Linked DNA regions of Homo sapiens: region 2 is linked to region 1. The links come from fine-mapping of genetic effects on gene expression. A gene starts in region 1. The other region holds a variant in brackets. All regions are shown on one strand. Distances are between the middles of the regions.

Region 1 (9,130 bases):
ATGTATCTCTTGTGACAAAATCTATAACCACCGCTGTACTTTGAGTTCTATTTCTTCATTATTTTTGAGGGACCTCAAGTCCTCAAAAATATCCTATCTTGCCTGTGTACTTAACTTTTCTTTTATTCTTTTCTAACTTTCCCTTCTCTTCACTTGGCACTTGCCCTTCCAGGTATATGTGTGCTCAGGTCTCCTCCACCTTCCATCTGCCTCACTTCATGGCATAGGGCCTTGAACTATCACAACCAAGCTATGAAAGAGTAGTCAACGCAGTGTCCCCACTTCCTTGCCATCCCATTATCCTAGTTTTTCTTTTGGCTCTCTGAGGAGTCCTTCACAGGCTGGTTTTCAGGAATAAGTCTAAATGAATCACTTTCAGTTTTCCTAAACTTCTATGCCTTTGCACATCCTCTTACCTCTGCCTAGAATATCTTTCTCCTTCTTTTCCATCTTTAAACTCTCACATCATTCTTCAAGACTGGGATCAGCTCTCAGCATCCGGAAGCCTTTGCCTACTAGAGACAAATGAGAATGAGTTTGGTCACCTTTTCATTTTCTTGTATCATTCTGTGCTTTATTTTGCTCTTCTAAGAGCGTTACATGCTTCATTTAATCCCTAAACAACTGTTTGAGGCAAGTACAGTTATTATCCTAATCATGCAAATGAGAAAACAGAGGCCCAGACATGTTGAGTAACTTTGATAAAAGTTAAAGAACCAATAAGTGGAACAGTTGAGGTTTGAACCCTGGCAGTCTGACTGTAGAGATACTATGTTTGACCTACTCCCCTCTGCCCCCACCCCATGTCTGCCCTTAGTTTCTGAGCTTGTTGAATGAATGAACAGGTGGTAGTCTTTTTTTGTTATAAGACTGATCAGAATTAAGACAGGTTTAAATTTCACGTGTAGAATTTTCAAAACTGCAAAGGCAGTGCAAATCTAAAAAAAGAATGGCATTCTCAGGAAAGAGGAAAAGTAAGTGTGAGAATAATAATAACAATAACCAACAAACTTTAGTAAATTTAGTAAATGTAGTAAATTTTTACATTAAAAGCTTTTGGACATACATTATCATATTTTATGGCCACATGAAATATATTATAATCCCATTTTGCACATAGGAAATCTGAGACTGGCATAAGGAGCACAGAGATCCAGGACTTTATATTTTCATTCTTCTAGGATTTTGCACCTCAGGTCGATATGTATGAGTAAACTGGGAGTATAATGGGCTCTTTAACAGAAAAACTAGGAAAGTTTTCCCACTATTATTAATTATTTACATAATATTTTTTTAATTTTATTATTATTTATACTTTAAGTTTTAGAGTACATGTGCACAATGTGCAGGTTTGTTACATATGTATACATGTGCCATGTTGGTGTGCTGCACCCATCAACTCATCATTTAGCATTAGGTATATCTCCTAATGCTATCCCTCCCCCCTCCCCCCTACATAAGATTTATAATGGATAATGGACTTCAATTTCTAGAGCAAAATGGCCCCACCCAAGGATGCCATAATCCTTCCAGAGCTCTACTGCAAGATATGAGATATACATATCTAAAACTTGTTCTTGGTATTTCCAAAGCAGTCAACTTTTACACCTGTTTATAATGCATCCAAATGTTGTTTTTATATGGTTGCATCTCCCATCTTCTTCACCAATAGCTATATATATTTTTCACAAGAGCTGAAAGAGTTCTTGATGTAGGAATCCATGGTAGAGTTTCAGAGAAATCCCTGAATTCACTGAAAGTTTTATCTAGAAATACATGTGCAAGTGAACACATCTTTTTTAAAAAAAATCATTACCTACTTTCTTTTTTGAGAAGAAGGTATTTATTTCAACAGACTCTTGAAGGAGCCTACTCTTCCCACTCTCCCACCCCCATTAAGAACCACTGTAGGCCGGGCACGATGGCTCATGCCTGTAATCCCAGCACTTTGGGAGGCTAAGGTGGGTGGATCACCTGAGGTCAGGAGTTCGAGACAAGCCTAGCCAACATAGTGAAACCCCGTCTCTACTAATAATACAAAAATTAGCTGGGTATGGCAGCATGTGCCTGTAATCCCAGCTACTCGGGAGGCTGAGGCAGGAGAATTGCTCGAACCCGGGAGGCGGAGGTTGCAGTGAACCGAGAGAGATCGTGCGGTGCCATTTCACTCCAGCCTGGGCAACAGAGCGAAACTCCATCTCAAAAAAACACACAAAACAAACAAACAAAAAGAAAGAACCATTGTATTAGTGATGGAAATGTGTTCCCTCCCTCCCATCCTGGCAACCACTTTCTTCCTCCTCCATCATAAAATATCTTAAACTAAACTAAAATAATTTTATTTATCGATAGTTTGAATTTTCCCTATCATTGCTACACAGCTAATTGAGAGGTACCCCGAGGAAAATATAAATGGTACAGTAATGCATTGTAGATTTTAATAACATACTTGACATCCCAAATTGTTTTCATTGGCTTCATTTTAAAAACTACATGTTTTAAAATCAAGCAGACACTAAAAGTACAAGATATACTGGGTCTACAAGGTTTAAGTCAACCAGGGATTGAAATATAACTTTTAAACAGAGCTGGATTATCCAGTAGGCAGATTAAGCATGTGCTTAAGGCATCAGCAAAGTCTGAGCAATCCATTTTTTAAAACGTAGTACATGTTTTTGATAAGCTTAAAAAGTAGTAGTCACAGGAAAAATTAGAACTTTTACCTCCTTGCGCTTGTTATACTCTTTAGTGCTGTTTAACTTTTCTTTGTAAGTGAGGGTGGTGGAGGGTGCCCATAATCTTTTCAGGGAGTAAGTTCTTCTTGGTCTTTCTTTCTTTCTTTCTTTCTTTTTTTCTTGAGACCAAGTTTCGCTCTTGTCTCCCAGGCTGGAGTGCAATGGCGCGATCTCGGCTCACTGCAACCTCCGCCTTCTCCTGGGTTCAAGCGATTCTCCTACATCAGCCTCCGAGTAGCTGGGATTACAGGCATGCGCCACCAAGCCCCGCTAATTTTGTATTTTTTAGTAGAGACAGGGTTTCGCCATGTTGGTCAGGCTTGTCTCGAACTCCTGGCCTCAGGTGATCCGCCTGTCTCGGCCTCCCAGAATGCTGGGATTATAGACGTGAGCCACCGCATCCGGACTTTCCTTTTATGTAATAGTGATAATTCTATCCAAAGCATTTTTTTTTTTTTTTTTGAGTCGGAGTCTCATTCTGTCACCCAGGCTGGAGGGTGGTGGCGCGATCTCGGCTTACTGCAACCTCTGCCTCCCGGGTTCAAGCGATTCTCCTGCCTCAGCCTCCTGAGTAGCTGGAATTACACACGTGCGCCACCATGGCCAGCTAATTTTTGTATTTTTAGTAGAGACGGGGTGTCACCATTTTGGCCAAGCTGGCCTCGAACTCCTGACCTCAGGTGATCTGCCCGCCTCGGCTTCCCAAAGTGCTGGGATTACAGGTGTGAGCCACCGCGTCCTGCTCCAAAGCATTTTCTTTCTATGCCTCAAAACAAGATTGCAAGCCAGTCCTCAAAGCGGATAATTCAAGAGCTAACAGGTATTAGCTTAGGATGTGTGGCACTGTTCTTAAGGCTTATATGTATTAATACATCATTTAAACTCACAACAACCCCTATAAAGCAGGGGGCACTCATATTCCCTTCCCCCTTTATAATTACGAAAAATGCAAGGTATTTTCAGTAGGAAAGAGAAATGTGAGAAGTGTGAAGGAGACAGGACAGTATTTGAAGCTGGTCTTTGGATCACTGTGCAACTCTGCTTCTAGAACACTGAGCACTTTTTCTGGTCTAGGAATTATGACTTTGAGAATGGAGTCCGTCCTTCCAATGACTCCCTCCCCATTTTCCTATCTGCCTACAGGCAGAATTCTCCCCCGTCCGTATTAAATAAACCTCATCTTTTCAGAGTCTGCTCTTATACCAGGCAATGTACACGTCTGAGAAACCCTTGCCCCAGACAGCCGTTTTACACGCAGGAGGGGAAGGGGAGGGGAAGGAGAGAGCAGTCCGACTCTCCAAAAGGAATCCTTTGAACTAGGGTTTCTGACTTAGTGAACCCCGCGCTCCTGAAAATCAAGGGTTGAGGGGGTAGGGGGACACTTTCTAGTCGTACAGGTGATTTCGATTCTCGGTGGGGCTCTCACAACTAGGAAAGAATAGTTTTGCTTTTTCTTATGATTAAAAGAAGAAGCCATACTTTCCCTATGACACCAAACACCCCGATTCAATTTGGCAGTTAGGAAGGTTGTATCGCGGAGGAAGGAAACGGGGCGGGGGCGGATTTCTTTTTAACAGAGTGAACGCACTCAAACACGCCTTTGCTGGCAGGCGGGGGAGCGCGGCTGGGAGCAGGGAGGCCGGAGGGCGGTGTGGGGGGCAGGTGGGGAGGAGCCCAGTCCTCCTTCCTTGCCAACGCTGGCTCTGGCGAGGGCTGCTTCCGGCTGGTGCCCCCGGGGGAGACCCAACCTGGGGCGACTTCAGGGGTGCCACATTCGCTAAGTGCTCGGAGTTAATAGCACCTCCTCCGAGCACTCGCTCACGGCGTCCCCTTGCCTGGAAAGATACCGCGGTCCCTCCAGAGGATTTGAGGGACAGGGTCGGAGGGGGCTCTTCCGCCAGCACCGGAGGAAGAAAGAGGAGGGGCTGGCTGGTCACCAGAGGGTGGGGCGGACCGCGTGCGCTCGGCGGCTGCGGAGAGGGGGAGAGCAGGCAGCGGGCGGCGGGGAGCAGCATGGAGCCGGCGGCGGGGAGCAGCATGGAGCCTTCGGCTGACTGGCTGGCCACGGCCGCGGCCCGGGGTCGGGTAGAGGAGGTGCGGGCGCTGCTGGAGGCGGGGGCGCTGCCCAACGCACCGAATAGTTACGGTCGGAGGCCGATCCAGGTGGGTAGAGGGTCTGCAGCGGGAGCAGGGGATGGCGGGCGACTCTGGAGGACGAAGTTTGCAGGGGAATTGGAATCAGGTAGCGCTTCGATTCTCCGGAAAAAGGGGAGGCTTCCTGGGGAGTTTTCAGAAGGGGTTTGTAATCACAGACCTCCTCCTGGCGACGCCCTGGGGGCTTGGGAAGCCAAGGAAGAGGAATGAGGAGCCACGCGCGTACAGATCTCTCGAATGCTGAGAAGATCTGAAGGGGGGAACATATTTGTATTAGATGGAAGTATGCTCTTTATCAGATACAAAATTTACGAACGTTTGGGATAAAAAGGGAGTCTTAAAGAAATGTAAGATGTGCTGGGACTACTTAGCCTCCAATTCACAGATACCTGGATGGAGCTTATCTTTCTTACTAGGAGGGATTATCAGTGGAAATCTGTGGTGTATGTTGGAATAAATATCGAATATAAATTTTGATCGAAATTATTCAGAAGCGGCCGGGCGCGGTGCCTCACGCCTTGTAATCCCTTCACTTTGGGAGATCAAGGCGGGGGGAATCACCTGAGGTCGGGAGTTCGAGACCAGCCTGGCCAACAGGTGAAACCTCGCCTCTACTAAAAATACAAAAAGTAGCCGGGGGTGGTGGCAGGCGCCTGTAATCCCAGCTACTCGGGAGGTTGAGGCAGGAGAATCGCTTGAACCCGGGAGGCTGAGGTTGTAGTGAACAGCGAGATGGAGCCACTTCACTCCAGCCTGGGTGACAGAGTGAGACTTTGTCGAAAGAAAGAAAGAGAGAAAGAGAGAGAGAAAAATTATTCAGAAGCAACTACATATTGTGTTTATTTTTAACTGAGTAGGGCAAATAAATATATGTTTGCTGTAGGAACTTAGGAAATAATGAGCCACATTCATGTGATCATTCCAGAGGTAATATGTAGTTACCATTTTGGGAATATCTGCTAACATTTTTGCTCTTTTACTATCTTTAGCTTACTTGATATAGTTTATTTGTGATAAGAGTTTTCAATTCCTCATTTTTGAACAGAGGTGTTTCTCCTCTCCCTACTCCTGTTTTGTGAGGGAGTTAGGGGAGGATTTAAAAGTAATTAATACATGGGTAACTTAGCATCTCTAAAATTTTGCCAACAGCTTGAACCCGGGAGTTTGGCTTTGTAGTCCTACAATATCTTAGAAGAGACCTTATTTGTTTAAAAACAAAAAGGAAAAAGAAAAGTGGATAGTTTTGACAATTTTTAATGGAGACGGGAGAAGAACATGTAGAAAAGGGGAAATGATGTTGGCTTAGAATCCTAACTACATTGGTGTTTAATATAGGAACATTTATTTATATAACATTTTAAAGTACTAAATTCATATTAGTATATTATCAAATGGATATATTATCAAATGGGTTTAAGCATCCTACACATTTTAATTCAATTGATTCATTTTCTTTTTGCTTTGGATTTCTATCATGATTTAAATATTTACATATGGGTTACTTTTTAGATTTTTCATACTATGAAATATAAGAAAAACCTTTAAGGCTAGTTTTATGACCAAGACGAAGGACTTCATTGAATACACAAAACAATAAATATACTGCAACATTTTGTCTTTCTTTTTGTAGCTGCAATTTGGTTTGCTTATACTTTCTCTTTGTCTCTTTGAAAACTGAGTCAGTTTCACTTTCTCAGGACAGGATTTAATAACCATAATATAATTTAGTATAATTCCTTGATTTAGGCAAATTATGCAATTTGTGTTTAGTATGAAATGTACCTAAAAATAAGTAACTCCTCTTTAACACCACCATCCTCAAACTAATATAACAAATAACAGTTATCCTAAAATAAATTGTCTACTTCCACCATGCAGCACTCAAATTTTAAGGTTGCTATGACTGCAGACAGTATTTTAAAATTCCTCTCTGGAAATGGCTTTGTTTCCAAGATGATTTAGGAACCAAAGAGGTGACCATCTCTTGTTTAATGAACTCTCAAATCATAAACCTGGGAAGTGTTTTAGTTTCCTACTGCTGCTGTTACAAATTATCACAAATGTGTTAGCTAAAACAAACACAAAATTATTATTTTACAGTTCTAGAGATCAGAAGTCAAAAATGGGTCCACAAGGTTTCATTCCTTTTGGAAACTCTAAGGGGCAATCTGTTTCCTTGTCTTTTCCAGCTTCTAGTGACCATCAAATTCCTTGGCTCATGGTCTCTGTATTTTCTCTGTGGCCTGTGCTTCCATTCTTGTATCTTCTCTCTGACTGTGACCCTCTAATAAAAACACTTGGGGTTATGTTGGGCCCACCCTGAAAATTCTGGATAATCTCCCTCAAGACCATTAATTAAATCACATCTGCAAAGCCTCTTTTGCCACATAAGTTAATGTATTAAAAGTTTTTGAGGATTAGGACATAGACATTGGGGGTGGGGGGGCATTATTCAGCCTACCACAGGAAGGAATTTTAGGGTTAATTAAACTAGCCTTCTTATTTTATACTTGAAGAAATTGAAGTTTTGGAATTGGAGAGCATTATGCTAAATGAAATAAGCCAAACACAGAAAGACAAATATCACATGTTCTCACTTATCTGTGAAATATAAAACAATTACATTCTTAGCAGTAAAGAGTAGAATGGTGGTTACTAGAGCTGGGGGGTGGGAGGAATGGGGAGATGGTAATCAAGATATAAAGCCTCAGTTAAGATGGGAGGAATAAGTTTGATTGTTTTTTTTGAGATGTGTTTCATAGCATGATGAATATAGCTAAATAGTAAATCCCAAATGCTCTCATTTGACAAAAATGTCAAATATTTGAGATGATGGATAGGTTACTTAGCTTGACTTAATAATTCCCCATTGTGTTCAAAGATCATAACTTCATATTGTACCACATAAATATATACAACTGTACTATCCCAATATATAATTTTAAAACTAATATAATGAAAAAGAAATTGAAGTTCAACATTCCCAGAAGCTAAGTGTAACTTAAAAGTTTTGTGAGAATTTGTTTTAACAAACAAACAAGTTTTCTCTTTTTAACAATTACCACATTCTGCGCTTGGATATACAGCAGTGAACAAAAAAAAAAAAAAAAATCTCCAGGCCTAACATAATTTCAGGAAGAAATTTCAGTAGTTGTATCTCAGGGGAAATACAGGAAGTTAGCCTGGAGTAAAAGTCAGTCTGTCCCTGCCCCTTTGCTATTTTGCCCGTGCCTCACAGTGCTCTCTGCCTGTGACGACAGCTCCGCAGAAGTTCGGAGGATATAATGGAATTCATTGTGTACTGAAGAATGGATAGAGAACTCAAGAAGGAAATTGGAAACTGGAAGCAAATGTAGGGGTAATTAGACACCTGGGGCTTGTGTGGGGGTCTGCTTGGCGGTGAGGGGGCTCTACACAAGCTTCCTTTCCGTCATGCCGGCCCCCACCCTGGCTCTGACCATTCTGTTCTCTCTGGCAGGTCATGATGATGGGCAGCGCCCGAGTGGCGGAGCTGCTGCTGCTCCACGGCGCGGAGCCCAACTGCGCCGACCCCGCCACTCTCACCCGACCCGTGCACGACGCTGCCCGGGAGGGCTTCCTGGACACGCTGGTGGTGCTGCACCGGGCCGGGGCGCGGCTGGACGTGCGCGATGCCTGGGGCCGTCTGCCCGTGGACCTGGCTGAGGAGCTGGGCCATCGCGATGTCGCACGGTACCTGCGCGCGGCTGCGGGGGGCACCAGAGGCAGTAACCATGCCCGCATAGATGCCGCGGAAGGTCCCTCAGGTGAGGACTGATGATCTGAGAATTTGTACCCTGAGAGCTTCCAAAGCTCAGAGCATTCATTTTCCAGCACAGAAAGTTCAGCCCGGGAGACCAGTCTCCGGTCTTGCCTCAGCTCACGCGCCAATCGGTGGGACGGCCTGAGTCTCCCTATCGCCCTGCCCCGCCAGGGCGGCAAATGGGAAATAATCCCGAAATGGACTTGCGCACGTGAAAGCCCATTTTGTACATTATACTTCCCAAAGCATACCACCACCCAAACACCTACCCTCTGCTAGTTCAAGGCCTAGACTGCGGAGCAATGAAGACTCAAGAGGCTAGAGGTCTAGTGCCCCCTCTTCCTCCAAACTAGGGCCAGTTGCATCCACTTACCAGGTCTGTTTCCTCATTTGCATACCAAGCTGGCTGGACCAACCTCAGGATTTCCAAACCCAATTGTGCGTGGCATCATCTGGAGAT
Region 2 (9,130 bases), 20 kb before region 1:
TATACATATGTATGTATATATATGTGTACATGTGTATACATCTTCCCATACTTACAGATATGTGTGTACATATGTGTATATAAAGATATGTATTATATATGTTACATACATGAGTTATAGGAATAGAATTGCTGAGTCAAAGGGTGTATATAAGTATATAGATATATACACAAACATATAACATACATATGAACTATATATACTATATAGTATATATGTGTATATATATTTCCATACATTATTTGTGTGTGTCTTTACATACTTAAAATAGTGGAATAGCTGAGTCAAAGGGTACCTATATTCTCATACAGTTTTGACTAGATATTGTAATGCTGCCTTTCAAAACAATTACACCAAGTTGTAATAGTAAGAGTGATTGTTTCCTGACAACTTTGTCAAAGTAGTCTTTTTTCTTTTTGCCACACTTGTGGTTATATGCCATTGTTTCTGTTTACATTTATTAATGAGTAAGATTATCTTTTTATTTTTTACTATTTGCACATATTCTACTATAAACTATTATATCCTTTGCCTTTTTTATTGGATTGTTGTTTTACTGGATTATGTATTTATTTATATAGTCTAGTAATTAATCTTTTGACATATATGATCAAATAATTGTTTTTTATTCTTGCTTATGTTATCTTTTTTCTTATGACTTTGGGGTTTTGAGTTTGAGCATGTGCAATGTTAGGAAAGTTTCTCATGAAATTTGGATAATCAAGAGTTACCTAAGGGATAAAGCTAGTGTCATAGGACATTAAGTTTGGGGAGGAGGAGAACAAGACAAGGGATATTCAGTAAGATTTTTCTCCCCTATCCCTGCCTATGGAATGAATTTGCTGATCTAAAACAGAAAATTATTTACCCCTGTTAAAAAAAACTCAATTAACTCAGGTTTTTAGGCCAGTGGAAGAGAACCCCAAAAACTTCCAATATTCAGTGATTCTGTCTGCATAAGTGACCCACAGATAACTCACTCCCTATTGACCCTGGCCTTTGGGACAACAGAAAAGGCACAAGGCTTGTAACCCAAAGGCCTGCCTGATGATTCCAGCCCTGGCTCTTGCTGGCCATGAAGTGTTCAAGATTTGAGCCTTTCTAGGCCTCATTCTTTCCACCTGTAAAACAGGAGTAATAATCCCAATTTTGAAAGGCCACTGTGAGGATAAAATAAGTAATATAAGTGAAATTACATGCTCAGTTCTTCATTATTAATTTTTTGAAGAGCACATAGCCAATAGTCACTCCGCATTCCAAAAGTATTTGGAATACCACATACCCATTGTTATGCTAGAAAGAGTCATCTTCACCATTGTATTTTGCTGAGACTAATATTAAACTTAGAATTCCCCTGCATACTGCAACTGAAAGAGAACAGGTATTGGGCAGCGGCAGTGGGGGAAACCAAGATGGAATTTAGATGTTCAAACTTTAATATTTACATTTTTTGAACAGAGAGCTTACTATATAATTATCCTTTTATTCAGATGGCATTCCTCTGAAATAAGCAATTACCCTTATCCCTAGGTCTAGTTCCTGTGGAGAGAAAATGATTATACTTTGAGCTATATGGCTCCAATAAACAAAGATAGATCCCTCAATTTAAATTTGATCCTCAGAAAACTGAGGGTCAGAGAACCCCTCAGGCATGACGGGATAATGTGACAGTTAATTTGGTATGTCAACTTGGCTAGGCTGTGGTACCCAGTGTTTGAGTCAAACACCAGTCTAAATATTGCTGTGGAGGTATTTTTTAGATATGATTAACATTTAAGTCAGTAGACTTGAAAAAGCAGATTATCCTCAATAATATGGGTGGTCCTCATCCAAGCAGTTGAAGAGCTTAAGAGAAATGACTGAGGTCCCTCAAGGAAGAAGAAATTCTGCTTCCAGATTGCCTTTGGATTCAAGTCTTGCAACAACAACTCTTCCCTGGGTCTCCAATTTGTCAACCCCCACCATTTTCTGAGACAATTCCTTAAAATAAGTATTTTCTCTCTTTCTCTTTCTCTCTCTCTCTCTCTCTCTCTCCCTCCCTCTCTTTCTCTCCCCCACATATGTGTGTGTAGACATATAATGTACGTATATATAAAATTGTATACACACACAGAGTCATGTGCTGGATAACGATGCTTCAGTCAACCACAGTCACATATTGGTGGTGTCCCATAAGATTATAATGGATGTGAAAAATTCCTATCCCCTAGTGATGTCATAGCTGTCCTAAAGTTGTAGCACAACATACTACCTTTTCTATGTTTAGATGTGTTTAGATATAAAACTACATTTTGTTACAATTATCTACAGTATTCAGTATAGTAACATGTTGTAAAGGTTTGCAGCCTAGGAGCAATAGCCCATACCATACAGCCTAGATGTATAATAGACTATACCACCTAGGTTTGTATATGATGTTTGCACAACAATGAAATCGCCTAAAGATACATGTCTGAGAATGTATCCCTGTTGTTAAGCAACCCCATGACGGTGTGTATATACATATACATATGTGTGGTACTGGCACGCACACACACACAATGGGTTCTGTTTCCCTGGAGAACTGACTGATATAGATAGCGACTTCAAAAGATGTTTAATACGTGCCTTTTCTCCTTTCCCCACCATGCTTTATTGCAACAACTAGTTACATTGTCTAGGCCCAAGAAACCCTCACCGCTCCCACTCCATTCCTCCAGTATCTTTAAATGACACTATGCTGGCATCCGACATCGTTTTTCTTCCAGGATGAACTAACCCTTTCTAAAGCGCCCTTCCTCTGTGGGACAGAAAACCTAATGCCCCCCTACAGAGGCGGAGGCCGGCTGAAGGTGGTGGTAGGAGGGGAATGCTGGGGGCGTGGCATAGGTGCAGAGGAAGACCCATAAAAGGATCTGGTTCCCATAGAGCTGACATTCTACACAACAAACAAGTAAACAAGTACATAAGTAAAATAATCTCTTCGTCCTAAGTGCTATAAAGAAAAAAATCACGGTGGTATGAGGGTGCCTGAAAAGGGAAGCATTTCTGAGGAAGGGCTACTTACTTCAGAAGAGACCTGAAGGAAAAAGAGCTATATTTGCGAAGAGGGAGAAAGAGCAGCCATACTAGACAGAAAGGTGGCATGTGGCCCCAGCACAAAGCACGGTGTTGGGTAAATTCTGAGTGAAATCTACCTACCGGGGAGGTGCATTTGTAAATATCTAGATAGATATTTAGAGTGGCTACGTAAGAGTGATCGCTAAATCTCACTTTTTCCAAAGGGCCCCGTTTTGTCTTGGGTTTGTACCGAGGTCCGGCAGCAACGTCAAGTGATGGGGCGGGGGATGGGGAAAGAGAAGTCTGCCGCTCCTCTAGGCTACCGCACCGCCTTAAGTGGGTGGCTCGGCCAGTGCAGGCCTCACTTTCCTCCCCTGTAAGGTCTGGGGGGCTTGACGTCTGATCTGTAAGGCCCTGTCGGCTCACGCTGTGGTTCCACTTCTTCAACTAGGCCACTAGGCCCAAGCGCATGAACAGGAAGCCACTGAGAAGCGGGCCACATTTCCAGGTTCCCGGAGCTGGGCCTAGTCCCGAATCCTCTGGCACACACCCACCCACTCAGGCCGCGGGTCCAGCCCGCGAGGTTTAGGACGGATCCAGGCAGACCGCAGGCTCCGGGTCGGGGCACCGGGTCAGCGCGCCGGCCTGAAGGCGGCGTCCTGGGCTCGACTTCCCGCGCGCGGAGAGCCGGCGAGCCCGCGTCCGAGTTCCTGGACGAGAGCCGAGCCTCGCTTAGACCGCGCTCAGGACCCGGCTCCTCCGCATTCTCCGGCTGCCCCTGTGTCCTCGACTCACCCCTCCTTTCTGCCGCTCCTTCCTTTCCTTGCCCTGCTTTTACTGTTCCCAAACAGGACCGCTTTTCCTGTCTCCCAGCTGGAAAGGAGGAAGGGAGAGAGTCCAGAAAGGATCGGTGATGTGGAAGAAAAGGGGAGGAGGGGACATGGAGGGGGAGACCGGAGAGAGAACGTACGCCGAGGAGTCAGGCGGCGGGATCAAGGGGAGTCGGGGTGTCTGGGCGCGGGGCAGAGCGTGGAGGCGGCAGCGGCCAACGGTCGCCAAGACAACCATTCTACGCGAGGACGCGGCGACAGGAGGGGAGCGGCCAGCAGGGGAGGGGAGCGCGGGGGAAGAGGAAAGAGGAAGAAGCGCTCAGATGCTCCGCGGCTGTCGTGAAGGTTAAAACCGAAAATAAAAATGGGCTAGACACAAAGGACTCGGTGCTTGTCCCAGCCAGGCGCCCTCGGCGACGCGGGCAGCTGGGAGGGGAATGGGCGCCCGGACCCAGCTGGGACCCCCGGGTGCGACTCCACCTACCTAGTCCGGCGCCAGGCCGGGTCGACAGCTCCGGCAGCGCCAGCGCCGCGCCGTGTCCAGATGTCGCGTCAGAGGCGTGCAGCGGTTTAGTTTAATTTCGCTTGTTTTCCAAATCT[A/C]GAAGAGGAGCGGAGCGGCTTTTAGTTCAAAACTGACATTCAGCCTCCTGATTGGCGGATAGAGCAATGAGATGACCTCGCTTTCCTTTCTTCCTTTTTCATTTTTAAATAATCTAGTTTGAAGAATGGAAGACTTTCGACGAGGGGAGCCAGGAATAAAATAAGGGGAATAGGGGAGCGGGGACGCGAGCAGCACCAGAATCCGCGGGAGCGCGGCTGTTCCTGGTAGGGCCGTGTCAGGTGACGGATGTAGCTAGGGGGCGAGCTGCCTGGAGTTGCGTTCCAGGCGTCCGGCCCCTGGGCCGTCACCGCGGGGCGCCCGCGCTGAGGGTGGGAAGATGGTGGTGGGGGTGGGGGCGCACACAGGGCGGGAAAGTGGCGGTAGGCGGGAGGGAGAGGAACGCGGGCCCTGAGCCGCCCGCGCGCGCGCCTCCCTACGGGCGCCTCCGGCAGCCCTTCCCGCGTGCGCAGGGCTCAGAGCCGTTCCGAGATCTTGGAGGTCCGGGTGGGAGTGGGGGTGGGGTGGGGGTGGGGGTGAAGGTGGGGGGCGGGCGCGCTCAGGGAAGGCGGGTGCGCGCCTGCGGGGCGGAGATGGGCAGGGGGCGGTGCGTGGGTCCCAGTCTGCAGTTAAGGGGGCAGGAGTGGCGCTGCTCACCTCTGGTGCCAAAGGGCGGCGCAGCGGCTGCCGAGCTCGGCCCTGGAGGCGGCGAGAACATGGTGCGCAGGTTCTTGGTGACCCTCCGGATTCGGCGCGCGTGCGGCCCGCCGCGAGTGAGGGTTTTCGTGGTTCACATCCCGCGGCTCACGGGGGAGTGGGCAGCGCCAGGGGCGCCCGCCGCTGTGGCCCTCGTGCTGATGCTACTGAGGAGCCAGCGTCTAGGGCAGCAGCCGCTTCCTAGAAGACCAGGTAGGAAAGGCCCTCGAAAAGTCCGGGGCGCATTCGGCACTTGTTTTGTTTGGTGTGATTTCGTAAACAGATAATTCGTCTCTAGCCCAGGCTAGGAGGAGGAGGAGATAACCGCCGGTGGAGGCTTCCCCATTCGGGTTACAACGACTTAGACATGTGGTTCTCGCAGTACCATTGAACCTGGACCTCCCTTCACACAGCCCCTCAATCGTGGGAAACTGAGGCGAACAGAGCTTCTAAACCCACCTCAGAAGTCAGTGAGTCCCGAATATCCTGGGTGGGAATGACTAAGACACACACACACACACACACACACACACACACACACACACACACACAGTAGGAAAGGTGTATTTCAAGCACACTTTCTTTCTCCTTGGGGAGAATTATTGCTAACCATCTAAGTTTTCTGGAGGCGGCCTTTTTTCTCCCCAGCCTCCCGGCGGGGTCACCCTCTCCCACCTTCCAGGAGAGTGGAGGACCCGTGAGATACGGGGCACGCAGGCAGCGACTTCCTGAAATGCTAACAAGGATCGTAGGATCAGTTACTGCTGCGAGGAGCAAGCACTTGCTTCTTGGGGGAGTTTTGCAGCCAACAGGGAAATGGGCTTTCTTTGTGAGTTAGAGGTAGAGGTCCGGCGGCCTGAGTGATTGAAACTGCTCGGGACAATGCTCGTATGTTTAGCAAACGACAGAACTGTAGAACTGTTCCTGAGAAATCCCAACTGATAGTATTTTAGTCATCTCAGACGACAGTTAGCACAGTTTAAAAATGAGGCCTACTTCTTGAAAAACAGAATCCAAGGTAGTTTTGTCCTCACATTGACAAATGTTGACACAGCCAGTGTAATTTCCTATAACCAGGAAAACTGAAAGAATATATGTACAGTTAAAATATGTACAATGCTAATTAAAACTTGTGTAATAAGTCTAAAAGTAATTTAATGAGGCTTCACTTTTATGACCGTCCTTGTGGTATGCTTCGCCAGGAATATATAGCTTCAAAAAGCAAAGGCCAGCGGAGGGGTAATTATTTTTTTACTGCAATGTTAATTGTCTCTTTGACATGGAAATATAAACCTGTTAAAACTATCAGTGTTTAATTTAGTGTCTCAATTTCTATTAGCAAAAATTTATAATCTATAGGATAAATGCACATTTTATTTTTTACTTTTCATATTATGCAAGTTAATTTTTTTAATTTAGTCAAAGGAGCTTATAAAGGATTTCAGGGCCTGTTGCTGGATTTGATTTTAATTCATTTTGAAACATTGACAAGACCCTGGTTGTTGTTTTTTTTAACAGTGGTTTATCCGTATCAGCAAAAGTTTAGCCACTGTGACCGGTAACTGTATGAATATAGTTCTTAATATTATTGTCTATATAAAAATATTTATTACTCTAGTTAATATTATTCTATATAAAATCATTTTGTTTAAATTATTAAGTTGCCTCTGAAAATCTGTAGTAACAAAGTAGAACATGTCAATGTATATAAATGCCATAATTATGTATTTTTTAGTTTAGGCCTATAAAACATAACATTGTGGTGATTTTAAGTTAGAGAAAATATTTTATAGTATGTTAATGTATATGCATGAAATGCAAAAATATTTAAATGATAGGTTCATTGAAATAGATCATTTTTTGTTATTTAGGTATAAATCAATTTTCAGGACGTATGTGAAAAGCGCAATCTTCAGGAAGTTTCTCAAGATAGAACACAGCTTGGATAGAATGTCTTGAAATATATGCAATTTTCCAATTTCATATGTAAAATGATATACATAATATAAAATCTAGCGGTGTTAATTATAATGATATGTAATTATATATTTCACATTAATATATTTTATGCCCATGGCTATATTGATTTGGGAATATATATGGATACTAATTATGTTAGGATTCATACAATTCCTTGAGAGGCACAAGTGCTAAAAATTACTTGTATGAATTATTTAATATCATTGCAAATAAGATGTTATTTTAACTTTTTTTAAGTTTCTGCAAATATGTTTATTATGACTTTTTATTTTTATATGATTGGAAATACATATACTAAAATTCCACGTTACCAGTTTCTTAACCACAGAAACCTGAAAAATTGCCATAGTTGATTTGTTACTTCTACCTTGGTGCATTTACAAAATAGTCATATTTTTATTATGAAGTTAAATATTCATTTGTTTATAGCTACTTCAGAAGGCTCAGGTTATTTTTTTCTTTAATAGCACAGAGTCCTCTCAAGGTAAGCACTGTGCAGTTAGTATAAACCATTATTCCCCATGTGTACATGATTCACAGTTTGTATTGTGTTCCAAGTGAACCATAGCCCTTTCAGAAATCAAGACTTATATTCATTTTACTTCTTTGAGTACTCTTGAATTTTAGAAAGTCCATTATGATCCTAAGGTAGCAACAACATAGCCTATTACCGTCTATGATGGTTTACAGATCTATTATTCCACGTTAGTTCATCACTATCAACTACCATGATAGAGTTAAGCTAAACCATTTTCCCAACATATGAAAAACTCCTATTACTAAAGTGATACAAATGGTATCAAAAATACTTTTTTATAGCAAGGTTCAACAGTGGGCCCAGTGCTTTTACACTTTTTCAAAAGTCCTTGGAGAAACAGAGAAAATCTCACTTGCCTTCTGTACTAAAACATTCTAGGCCGAACTAAAACTGAAACTTCATAGTAGAACACTGTAGGCCAGGGGTGTTCAATCTTTTACCTTCCCTGGGCCACATAGGAAGAAGAAGAATTGTCTTGGGACACACATTAAATACACTAACACTAACAATAGCTGATGAGCTTAAAAAAAAAAAAAAACTCATGATACTTTAAGAAAGTGTATGAATTTGTGTTGGGCAGCATTCAAAACCATCCTGGGCTGCATGTGACCCTCGGGCCCACAGGTTGGACAAGCTTGCCCTAGCTCCTCCATCTGCTGCAAAGCCCAGCCTGATACAAAAACCAACGTGATAAAAAGTTTTTGTGGTGCTTTATTTTGGCAGTTTAAGTTATATAAACAATGGGTACAGTTTCATTTTCTAAATATAAAATTTTTACATTGAATATGAATTTTTAAGACAAATTATCTGAATTCTGATTCTCATATACCTAACTACTAATATCTTCTCTATTTGTTGCCCAATGAGATTAATCCACCTCTTAAACACTTCACCATCAAGAAAAACAATTTTGTATTTTAAAATGAACCCATCCACTTTCATTCAGCTATTTTATATTCAGGCATCATCCTAAGGAAAGAAAGGTTCTGACAAAGATTAATACAGATGGATAAGTAGTAGCAAGAAATCAAAAACTGCATAAAATTCTAGCAATAAAGTGTTAAATTATGGTACAGTTACATTCTGGATCATCAGGTATCTGAAGAATATTTCATAGACTGTTAAATGATTGCATTATAAAGTCAGGTTTTTTTAAAGCAAGATTCCAAACAGTAAACAGTTTCTCTCTCTCTCTCTCTCTCTCTCTCTCTCTCTCTCTCTCACCAAATTAGTTATAATGGTTTCCGCAGGATGAGAGGGGTTGGGAAAAAGTTTGGTGATATTTATTTTCTTCGTTTCACTTTTGAGTTTTCCAAAGTGCTATGACCATCATCAGTAAAATATACATTTCCAAAGCCTTTGACACACGGTAACAGTCCTACACAGTGGATGAACTAAGAGCTTCTCTACCCTTAGATGGGTAGGGAGGGAGGAAAGACAAGGAAACTG

Evidence for each region.
Region 2: its variant is fine-mapped to the expression of CDKN2A in esophagus muscle (GTEx, PIP 0.99).

What each region holds. Positions count from the first base shown.
Region 1 is chr9:21,970,446-21,979,575 of GRCh38, reverse strand. CDKN2A (cyclin dependent kinase inhibitor 2A) reads left to right here and starts at 4,719. Exons shown (of 3, transcript NM_000077.5): 1 at 4,719-4,898; 2 at 8,368-8,674. The coding sequence starts at 4,749. RefSeq lists an enhancer at 4,162-4,211 and silencers at 4,392-4,491, 4,712-4,761.
Region 2 is chr9:21,990,385-21,999,514 of GRCh38, reverse strand. CDKN2B-AS1 (CDKN2B and CDKN2A antisense cis and trans regulatory RNA 1) reads right to left here and starts at 4,724. Exons shown (of 19, transcript NR_003529.4): 1 at 4,354-4,724. LOC124902130 (a long non-coding RNA gene) reads left to right here and starts at 5,487. Exons shown (of 2, transcript XR_007061436.1): 1 at 5,487-5,629; 2 at 7,035-9,130. It also overlaps a transcript of CDKN2A not described here. RefSeq lists silencers at 4,271-4,470, 4,791-5,050. The variant A/C (reference allele first, on the strand shown) is at 4,470.